Linked DNA regions of Homo sapiens: region 1 is linked to region 2. The links come from fine-mapping of genetic effects on plasma protein levels. Region 2 holds a variant in brackets. A gene starts in the other region. All regions are shown on their forward strands. Region 1 holds the start of PRSS8 (serine protease 8). Region 2 has its middle 14 kb from the start of PPP1R14A.

What was found. A credible set is the group of variants that fine-mapping cannot tell apart. PIP is the chance, under the fine-mapping model, that this variant and not a neighbour inherited with it causes the effect. Protein levels are from antibody-based Olink assays in UK Biobank. Linkage for the fine-mapping came from a reference panel and not from the study's own genotypes, which makes the PIPs less certain.
Region 1: it holds the start of PRSS8, and the variant in region 2 is the best candidate, but not a certain one, in a credible set for the plasma level of the PRSS8 protein (UK Biobank, PIP 0.59).

The regions. Positions count from the first base shown.
Region 1 is chr16:31,133,403-31,138,772 of GRCh38, forward strand. It overlaps PRSS8 (serine protease 8), which reads right to left and starts at 2,325. Exons shown (of 6, transcript NM_002773.5): 1 at 2,012-2,325; 2 at 1,752-1,769. The coding sequence starts at 2,096. RefSeq lists enhancers at 440-1,386, 5,074-5,370.
Region 2 is chr19:38,239,379-38,244,748 of GRCh38, forward strand. No RefSeq gene overlaps it. Among named protein-coding and RNA genes, the nearest start is that of PPP1R14A, 14 kb to the right of the region's middle. RefSeq lists an enhancer at 4,866-5,370. The variant C/T (reference allele first, on the strand shown) is at 2,565.

The DNA.
Region 1 (5,370 bases), not on the chromosome of region 2:
AGGGAAGGGGTCAGGTTGTTAGCCTGGCCACTCCTATGCAGCCCAGGAGCTCTGATATAGAGCTTGGGAAGTGGGTTCACAGGAGTCAACACCCCTTTGTCCCCTCCCAGGCATGGGCAGTTGTGCCCCTTCTGTCCACTACCCATTACCTAATTCAGGTCTCATGGCAGCTTCTCTCCTTGCAAGCCTTCCATCCATCCCGCCCCTTACAAGTCTGAAGATTTTCATAAACCCCCAATCTGACCAGGCCACAGCCCTGCTTAAACCCTTCTTGGCTCCACGCGGTCCTTAAGATACATTCCAGACAGACCATGGCACCGCCATCGGACCCAGCCGTCCCCTCTGGACCCTTCAGTTGTGTACATCAGGCCACACACTTGTTTACCCGGGACCTTGGCTGATCCAGGTCACTCTACCTGGTATGCCCTTCCCCATCCTTACTGTCTGGCAAACTTCCCTTTGCCTGTGGATGCTTGATTGGAACAGCAGCCCCTCCGTAGACAGGCGGGCTTCTGCTGGCTGAGTTGGGCATTGCCTCCGAGCCCAGCACCCCCCAACCTCCACCATGCTCCCCGATGCTGCCCAGTCTCACAATTGTTCCGGAGTCCACAACTGTGTCTGTTTCCACCACACCAATCTGGGCATTCCCTAGGGGCAGATTCTCATGTCTGCAGTGCCTGTGGCGTCGTGGACATATATTCAACAAACCAACAGCAGAACTGGGCTCCTGTGATGTGAATGTCTAGTTTCCAGGACAGCCCCAGCCCCACCCCCATTGAGGCCACTTTGGAGTGGAGCCCAACTGCTCTTCACAAAGTCATCTAGGAGCAGAGAAAATTGCAGACCAGATCTTTCTCTCCCTTATCATCATGACAATAGCCACTATTTAGAGAGCCTAGCGGCTGTGCCAGGCCCTGGAGGGGCTTTCGCTTCCTCATCTCCCTGCATCCTCTCCACAGCCCCAGGAGACGGACATGACCAGCTTCATTTTAGAGGTGAGGAGTCTAAGGCTTAGAGAAGTGGGGGGACTTGGCCAATGACACACAGCCAGTGCATGGGGAAGCCAGGATTGAAAGCCGGTCTGACTCAGAGCTGGGTTGGGTGCCTTCCAAGAAAGGAGACCCTTGGTTTGGTTCCCTCAAAACCACCTCCAGGATGGGAACGGTGGCTCACACCTGTAATCCCAGCACTTTGAGAGGCCAAGGCAGGAGGATCGCTTGAGCCCAGGAGTTCAAGACCTGCCCGGCCAACATAGTGAGACCCACATCTCTACCAAACAAAAACAAAAACAAAAACAAAACACAACTAGCTGGGTGTGATGGCATGCACCTGTAGTCCCAGCCACTAGGGAGGCTGAGGTGGGGAGGTGGGAGGATCACGTGAGCCCGGGAGGCTGGATCACTGAGACTGCAGTGAGCTGCGATCGGGCCACTGCACTCCAGCCTGGGTGACGACAGACCCAGACCCTGTTTCAAAAGACAAAAACCAAACCAAAAAAACCACCTCGATTGCCCCACTTTGGGAGTCAGACGTGGATCTGAATCCCAGCTGCACCTTCACTGGCAGTGTGCCCTGGGCAAGTCCCTGCTTCTCTGCCCATAAGGTGAGGGCTAAAACCCCCCACTCTGGGAGCCCTAAGAGAATCTAGTTGGAAGGCAGCCCAGCTGAAGGCCAGGCACTGGTTAAACCCCAGGGGAATCCGATCCAAGTCACCTCCCCCTCCCCTCCTCCCTCTCCGAGGAAAGTCTCACCTTCTGCCCCTTCCGCTCCTAGAAAGAAAGAGAAAGAGGAGGGGTGAGTAGGGAAGACTCGGGTTCCCTGACCCCTTAGTACCCACCACTGCTCCAGAGGGCTGGCCCCTTCCCTGACAGAGCCAAGGTGGGAAAGAGAGGCCAAGAGCTAGGGAGGCCGGGGGTTTTCTTGGGCCCCAGACAAGGGCACACCCCAGAAAATGATCACGCCGGCTCCCTCCAGTGCATTGTCCCCACCCTGCCCCCACGTCCTCACTTACCTGTCCCCGACCGGAGTAATCCAAGATAGAGCAGAATGGCCACAGCCCCCAGCTGCCCAGGCCCCAGGACCCCCTTCTGGGCCATGGCCCAGGACAAGGGCCCCTGGGGCAGACTCCAGGCACGCAAGGTAGGAAGCCTTGGGGTGGTGTCGAAGGCAGGACCCAGATGTTGGCTCAGAGGGAAGGATCCCAGAATCCGGGCTGGAAAGGGGCAGCAAGTGTCCAAGGCTGGCCTCTAAGGCAGGGAGCGGCCGCAACGGGAGACGCCTGGAGTATCCGAAGCGAGCAGTGTGGACGAGTCACCAGCACCGTCTGGCCACGCAGGGTCCTCCCAGGAGTGGCTGCACCTACCTGCCCGCCCCTCCCCTGGCCCCGCCCACTGGCTGGGCTCCGCCAGCTCCTCTTGCCACCAAAGTCATGAGTCCTTTCAGAGCTGCAGGCCCGTGTGTGTGCATGTATGTGTCCGTGTGTATGTGTGTGCACATGCATAGGCCTTTTGTGTGTGTGTCCCGGTGTGTAGTGTGTATGTGGTGTGTGTGTATGCCTGTGTAGGCTGTGTGTGTCCTCTTATGTGGTGTGGTATGTGTGTGTGTGTGCATGTACAGGCTGTATGTGCACATGTGTAGGCTGTGTGTGTCCCTGTGTGTGTAGTGTGTGTGTCTGAGTGTGCGTGCATGCACGTGCATGTGGTTTGTGTGTGTGTGCAGTCTCCCTGGAATGTGACGACTCTCCTCCGCCTCAGGTCTTTCAGGTTATCTCAGGCCAGTTATGCCCCCCAGGGCCTGGCCCCAGCTTTTATTATCTGGAGCCACAGCCACTCCTCCCTTCTTCCCTCCCTCCTTAGGCTGGTTATGGGAGCTTAAGACACTATGGTCTGTCCCCTGCCAGGCCCTTTCTGCGATGCCTGCACCTCATGGGTGGTGGCGAGCTTGTGGAGCAGCACCAATCATCCCACAGACATTTCCTAAGTGCCTATGATGTTCCCAGGTGTCCAGGACAAAACAGGCACCAGCCCCGTCCCCCTTGAGCCCTGAGCTCATGGTGAAGTAGGGGTGACACACTTCAATCAAATAATCACAAACAGGCTGGCAAGGTGGCTAGTCGGCTTTGGGAGGCTGAGGCTGGAGCATCACTTGAAGCCAGGAGTTCCAGACCAGCCTGGGGAATATAGCGAGGCCTCATCTCTACAAAGAAATATAAAAATTAGGCAGGCATTGTGGCGCATGCCTATGGTTCCAGCTATTTGGGAGGCTGAGGCAGGAGGATTGCTTGAGCCCAGGAGTTCAACGAAGCATTGAGCTATGATCACGCCACTGCACTCCAGCCTGGGCAACAGAGGGAGACCCTGTCTTAAAAAAAAAAATTGCAATTACACAATAATTTCAAGCTAGGAATAGTGATGAAAAAGAATGGCGTGAGCACACCACAGCCTGGCAAAGGCTGGCATTGTGAAAGGGTCCTCGAGGAATTGCCTTGGAAACTGAGACCGAAAGGGATTATAAAAGGTGGTAAGGCGAAGATGGGGGGATGGGGTGCAGAGGGCAGAGGCTCAGGGAAAGAAGGCTTGCCGTGTGGCTGCGGTGGGAGTGAGGCATGTATCCTCCTTGAGGGCCACTCTGGCCGTTCAAAACACCTGTTGAGGCTGGGTGTGGTGGCTCACGCCTCTAATCTCGGCACTTTGGGAGGCCAAGGCACACGAATCACGAGGTCAGGAGTTTGAGACCATCCTGAACAACATGGTGAAACCCCATTTCTACTAAAAATACAAAAATTAGCCAGGCGTGGTAGCACGCACCTGTAATTCCAGCTACTCAGGAGGCTGAGGCAGGAGAATCGCTTGAACCCAGGAGGTGGAGGTTGCAGTGAGCCGAGATATTGCGCCATTGCACTCCAGCCTGAGCGACAGAGCGAGACTCCGTCTCAAAAAACAAACAAACAAAAAAAATTGTGGAGCTTGGATGTGGTGGCTCACACCTATAATCCCAGCACTTTGTGAGGCCAAGGTGGGAGGATCATTCTCAAGATCAGGAGTTTGAGACCAGCTTGGCCAACATGGTAAAACCCCGTCTCTCCTAAAAAATACAAAGAAAATTAGCCAGGCGTGGTGGCGCATACCTGTAATCTTAGCTACTCGGGAGGCTGAGGCAGGAGAATTGCTTGAACCTGGGAAGCCAAGATTGTGCCACTGCACTCCAGCCTGGGCAACAGAGGGAGACTCCATCTCAAAATAAATAAATAAATAAAATAAATAGGCCAGATGCAGTGGCTCACGCCTGTAAATCCCAGCACTTTGGGAGGCTGAGGTGGGCGGATCATCTGAGGTCAGGAGTTCAAGACCAGCCTGGCCAACATAGAGACACCCCACCTCTACTAAAAATACAAAAATTAGTTGGGCATGGTGGTGGGCACCTGTAATCCCAGCTTCTCAGGAGGCTGAGGCAGGAGAATTGCTTGAACCTGGGAGGTGAAGGTTGTAGTGAGCCGAGATTGCGCCATTGAACTCCAGTGTGGGCGACAATAGCAAAACTCTGTCTCAAAAAATTAAAAATAAATAAGTTAAATAAAAATACAAAAATTAGTCCGGCATGGTGTCTTGAGTCTGCAATCCTAGTTACTTGAGTCTGAGGCAGGAGGATCGCTTGAACCCAGGAGGTGGAGGTTGCAGTGAGCCGAGATTGCACCACTGCACTCCAGCCTGAGCATCAGTATGAGACTCTGTCTCAAAAAAAAAAAAGTGGAGATGGGGGTCTTGCTTTGTTGCCCGGGCTGGTCTGGAATGCCTGGCCTCAAGCGATCCTCCCAAAGTGCTGGGATTACAGGCATGAGCTGCCGCACCTCGTCTCTGGTTTTGCGTTACTTTTTAATTGTAGATTCATTGGCTGGAAACCACCTTCCCTTTTTCTGTGCTCAAACATCACTGCTATGACATCTTCCCAATCCCAGCCAGGGATGTCCACATGTGTCCCCACTAGATTGGGAGGACTTTGTGGGCTTATATATCAGACCCCAATTGTGCCACGACTTAGTAGCCACCAGGGAACACGGGTTGAATGAATGCAGGGAGGTGCAGGTAAGCAGTGGGTAAGGGAGTGAGGTTCACATATAAGGGACCCAAGTTCTGGGCAGAATGTGAAAGTGGCAGACCCTTGAAGGGCCCAAGTGTTGTGTGTGTGCAGGGGATACATCGGAGCATTGTGCATTGAGGTGTGTCTATGGCGGGCAGCGAGGGCAGCGGGTCTGAGCAGGGGATGAGATGTCCAGCACGTGCCGAGGGTGCTGACTCCACTGGGCAGGTGACACACAGCCAGCTGGCCACCCGACTTCCCTGCCCTGGGACAGGAATGAAGGAATCGCTGCCA
Region 2 (5,370 bases):
AACCCCTTCTCTACTAAAAATACAAAACTTAGCTGGGCATGGTGGTGCGTGCCTGTAATCCCAGCTACTCGGAAGGCTGAGGCAGGAGAATTGCTTGAACCAGGGAGGTGGAGGTTGCAGTGAGCCAAGATCGAGCCACTGCACTCCAGCCTGGGCGACAGAGTAAGACTCTGTCTCAAAAAAAAAAAAAAAAAAAAAAGAGAAAAGAAAAGAAAATATTCGCTGGGCACGGTAGCTTATGCCTGTAATCCCAGCACTTTGGGAGGCCTAGGTGGGTGGATCACCTGAGGTTGGGAGTTTGAGACCATCCTGACCAACATGGAGAAACCCAATCTCTACTAAAATTACAGAACTGCCGGGCGTGGTGGCACCCGCCTATGATCCCAGCTACTCCAGAGGCTGAGGCAGGAGAATCACTTGAACCTAGGAGGCAGAGGTTGCGATGAGCTGAGATCACGCCATTGCACTCTAGCCTGGGCAACAAGAGCAAAACTCCATCTCAAAAGAAAAAAGAAAGAAAGAAAGCATTCAGGGGAGTGGGAGCCAGTGTTGCACCGGATGTAGCTGAGAGGTCAAGACAAGCAGGAGGTGTGATGTTGGACCCAACACCATGGGGACCCCGACAAGAGCATTTCCAGAGTAGGAACAGCAAGATGTGAACATTTGATTGGAAATGGTGTAAGAGAGAACTGAGAACGTCTCTTGTGAGAAATTTTGCTGTAAAAGGAAACGGAGAAATGGGGCTGGAGCTGGAGGAAGTCCAGAGAGTTTTTGTTGTGATTTTGTTTTAATGTGGAAGAAGTGACGATGTGTCTGTGTGCCCGTGGGAATGAGTACGTGGGGGCTGGGGACCTGCTGGAGCAATGACCTTCAGGAAGCAAGAGAAAATGGGGAAAATAGGCCAGGCACGGTGGCTCAATTTGGGAGGCCGAGGTGGGCAGATCACTTCAGCCCAGGAGCTCGAGACCAGCCTGGGCAACATGGCAAAACCCCGTCTCTACAAAAAAAAAAAAAAAAAAAAAAAAGGTAGCCGGGCATGATGGCACGTGCCTGTAATCCCAGCTACTACTTGGGAGGTTAAGGTGGGAGGATCATCTGAGCCCGAGGAGGTTGAGGTTTCAGGGAGCCATGATGGTGCCACTGCACTCCAGCCTGGGTGACAGAGACCCCATCTCAAAAAAGAAAAAAAAAAAAAAGAAAATGGGGGAAATCCCCAAGGGGGGTGACGTTAGAGACAGCTGATCCATCCCAACAGGACCCAAAAGCACTTACCAGCACAGAAGCCAGGAGGTGGGGCAGTCGGCAGGAGACGAGGGAATTAGGGTGTTCTCTTCTAGTGAAGCTTGTGAGCAAGGATGGGGAAAGGAGAGAGACACACTTGGAACCCTCACTATGAGCAAGGGAGGTATGGAGCGTGGCTCCCACCCCAGTGGACGCCTGGAGGGGAGGGTCAGGAATTTAAAGTGAAAACTTGTGTTTCCTCCAACCATGCTAACCAATGAGGGCACACACTTGCAGAAGACAGAGAGTTGCCAGCACTTTGGGAGGCCTAGGGGGGCGGATCACCTGAGGTCAGGAGTTCGAGACCAGCCAGGACAATATGGCAAAACCCCATCTCTACTAAAAATACAAAAATTAGCCGGGCATGGTGGCACACGCTTGTAATCCAGCTACTTAGGAGGCTGACGCACAAGAATCACTTGAACCCGGAAAGCAGAGATTATAGTGAGTCAAGATTGCGCCACTGCACTCCAGCCTGGGCAAAAAGAGTGAGACTCTGTCTCAAAGAAAAAAAATACAAGGGGAAGGGAATGAGACACCACCTTTTGATGGGAGAGTGAGAAATAATTTGGCATGTCACAGTGATATTCTCTTCCATTTTCCATAATCAACTCCATTGGTGTTTTTTGTTGTTTTTTTTGTGTTTTTTGAGACGGAGTCTCCATCTGTCACCCAGGCTGGAGTGCAGTGGTGTGATCCCGGCTCACTGCAACCTCCACCTCCCGGGTTCAAGCAATTCTCCTGCCTCAGCCTCCCGAGTAGCTGGGATTACAGGTGCATGCCACCACGTCCTGCTAATTTTTTGTATTTTAGTAGAGACGGGGTTTCACCGTCTTGCCCAGGCTGGTCTCAAACTCTTGAGCTCAAGCAATCCACCTGCCTCGGCCTCCCAAAGTGCTAGGATTACAGGTGTGAGCCACTGCGCCCAGCCAACTCAATTGTTATACTCTACATTTAGGTCTTTATTCTATCTGGAGTCTATTTTTGTATGTGCTGCTACATAGGGACACTTTAGTAGGATTATTTTTAAATTTTTTAAAAAATTTCAATAGTTTTGGGGTACAGGTGGTTTTTGGTTACATGGATAAGCTCTTTTTTTTTTTTTTTTTTTGAGATGGAGTCTTGCTTTGTCACCCAGGCTGGAGTGCAGTGGCGCGATCTCGGCTCACTGCAAGCTCCGCCTCCCGGGTTCATGCCGTTCTCCTGCCTCAGCCTCCTGAGTAGCTGGGACTACAGGCGCCCGCCACCATGCCTGGCTAATTTTTTTGTATTTTTAATAGAGA[C/T]GGGGTTTCAACATATTAGCCAGGATGGTCTCAATCTCCTGACTTCGTGATCCACCCGCCTCGGCCTCCCAAAGTGCTGGGATTACAGGCGTGAGCCACCGCGCCTGGCATGGATAAGTTCTTTAGTGGTGACTTCTGAGATTTTAGTGCACTTGTCACTGGAAGAGTGTACACTGTATCCAGTATGTAGTCTTTATCCCTCACCACCTCCCAACCTTCCCTGCCCCAAGTCCCAGAGTCCATTATATCATTCTTATGCCATTGTGTCCTCATACCTTAGCTCCCGCTTACAAGTGAGAACATACGGTTTGTGGTTTTCCATTCCTCAGTTACTTTACTTAGAATAATGGCCTCCAAGGCTGGGCGCGGTGGCTCACGCCTGTAATCCCAGCACTTTGGGAGGCCAAGGTGGGTGGATCACATGAGGTCAGGAGTTCGAGACCAGCCTGACCAATATGATGAAACCCCTTCTCTACTAAAAATACAAAAAAATTAGCCGGGCGTGGTGGTTCATGCCTGTAATCCCAACTACTCAAGAGGCTGAGGCAGGAGAATTGCTTGAACCCAAGCGGCACAATCTCGGCTCACTGCAACCTCCGCCTCCTGGGTTCAAGCAATTCTCCTGCCTCAGCCTCCCAAGTAGCTGTGATTACAGGCATGCACCACTACACTCTGCTAATTTTTGTATTTTTACTAGACATGGGGTTTCACCATGTTGGTTAGGCTGGTCTCGATCGCCTAACCTCAGGTGATCCACCCGCCTCAGCCTCCCAAAGTTCATCTGGAATTTTGATGAAGATTGCTGTGGGCGGGCACAGTGGGCAGCAGCGAGACTTCGTCTAAGGAAAAAAAAATTAGGTGTGATGACACGTGCCTGTAGTCCTAGTTACTTGGGAGGCTGAGGTGGGAGGATCACCTGAGCTCAGGAGTTTGAGGGTGCAGTGAGCTATGATGGTTCCACTGCACTCCAGCCTGGGCAACAGAGTGAGACCGTGTCTCAAAAAAAAGTTCTGCCCATCAACCAATGAGTGCATAAAGGAAATGTGGTACATATACAGCCGTTAAAAGGAATGAAATCATGTATTTTGCAGCCACTTGGATGGAGCTGGAGACATTATTCTTTTTTTTGTTTGTTTGAGAGGAAGGTCTTGCTCTGTGGCCCAGGCCAGAGTGCAATGGCAGGATCTCGGCTCACTGCAAACTCTTGGGCAGATCATGAGGTCAGGAGTTCGAGACCAGCCTGACCAACATGTCGAAACCCCGTCTCTACTAAAAATACAAAAATTAGCCGGGCATGGTGGCGCGTGCCTGAAATCCCAGCTACTGAGGAGGCTGAGGCAGGAGAATCGCTTGAACCCGGGAGGCGGAGATTGCATTGAGCCGAGATCATGCCACTGCACTCCAGCCTCAGTGACAGAGCGATTCTCAGTCTCAAAACAAACAAACAAACAAAAACCACTTCAAGCCGGGCATGATGCGGGTGCCTGTAGTCCCAGGTACTCAGGAGGCTGAAGCAGGTAGGATCGCTTGAACTCAGGATTTCGAGGCTGCAGTGAGCTATCATAGTGCTGCTGTGCTCCAGCCTGGGCGACAGAGCAAGACCCCTTTCTAAAAAAAAAAAAAAAAAAAAAAAAAAAAGATAAGATATGAAAACAAAACAGCCGGGTGCGGTGGCTCACGCTTGTAATCCCAGCACTTTGGGAGGCCGAGGTGAGTGGATTACCTGACGTCAGGAGTTTGAGACCAGCCTGACTAATATGGTGAAATCCCGTCTCTACTAAAAATACAAAAATTAGCCAGGCATGGTGGCGCGTGTGTAGTCCCAGCTACTCAGGAGGCTGAGGCAGGAGAATCGCTTGAACCTGGGAGGTGGAAGTTGCAGTGAGCCGAGATCGCGCCATTGCGCTCCAGCATGGGGGACAAGAGCAAAAACTCTGTCTCAAAAAACAAACAAAGAAACAAAACAGAAAAAGTAAAAAGGAGAAACGAAAATTAAAAAAAAAAAACAAAACAAAGAAATAAAATAAAATAAAACCAATTCACATAGCCACGAGGGGGCGCTGAGGCCTCACGTCCACACGTAGAGGGCTGCGGTGCTTGGAGACAACGTGGCCACCTGGGAGTACGGTTCTTGGGCAAGCGCCTACTGTGCGCCCGGCGCCGTTCTACACAGGAACACAGCGCTTTTCAAGGTAGGCGAGGAGCTAATATTCTGAAGATGGTGGTGGGGGGCGGTGAACAGACAATAGAATAGACAGACCAGAGTGTAATATTTTTTTTTTTGAGATAGGGTGTTGCTGTGTTTCCCAGGCTGGAGTGCAGTGGTGCAATCATAGCTCACTGCAGCCTCAAACTCCTGGGCTCAAGCAATACTCCCACCTCAGCCTCCAGAGTAACTAAGAACACAGGCATGCACCACCACGTCTAGCTAATTTTATTTTTTGTAGAGACAGGGTCTCCCCTGGGCTGGTCTGGAACTCCTGGCCTCAAGTGATCCTCCTACCTCGGCCACTCAACGTGCTAGGATTACAGGCATGAGCCACCACGCCTGGCCAATAAATTCTATAAAAAAATAAATAAATCAGCAGGGCACGGTGGCTCACACCTGTTATCTCAGCACTTTGGGAGGCCGAGACAGGTGGATCATGAGGTCAGGAGTTCAAGACCAGGCTGGCCAGGATGGTGAAACCCTGTCTCTACTAAAAATACAAAGAAATTAGCTGGGCGTGGTGGCAGGTGCCTATAATCCCAGCTACTCGGGAGGCTGAAGCAGAGAATTGCTTGAACCCAGGAGGTGGAGGTTGCA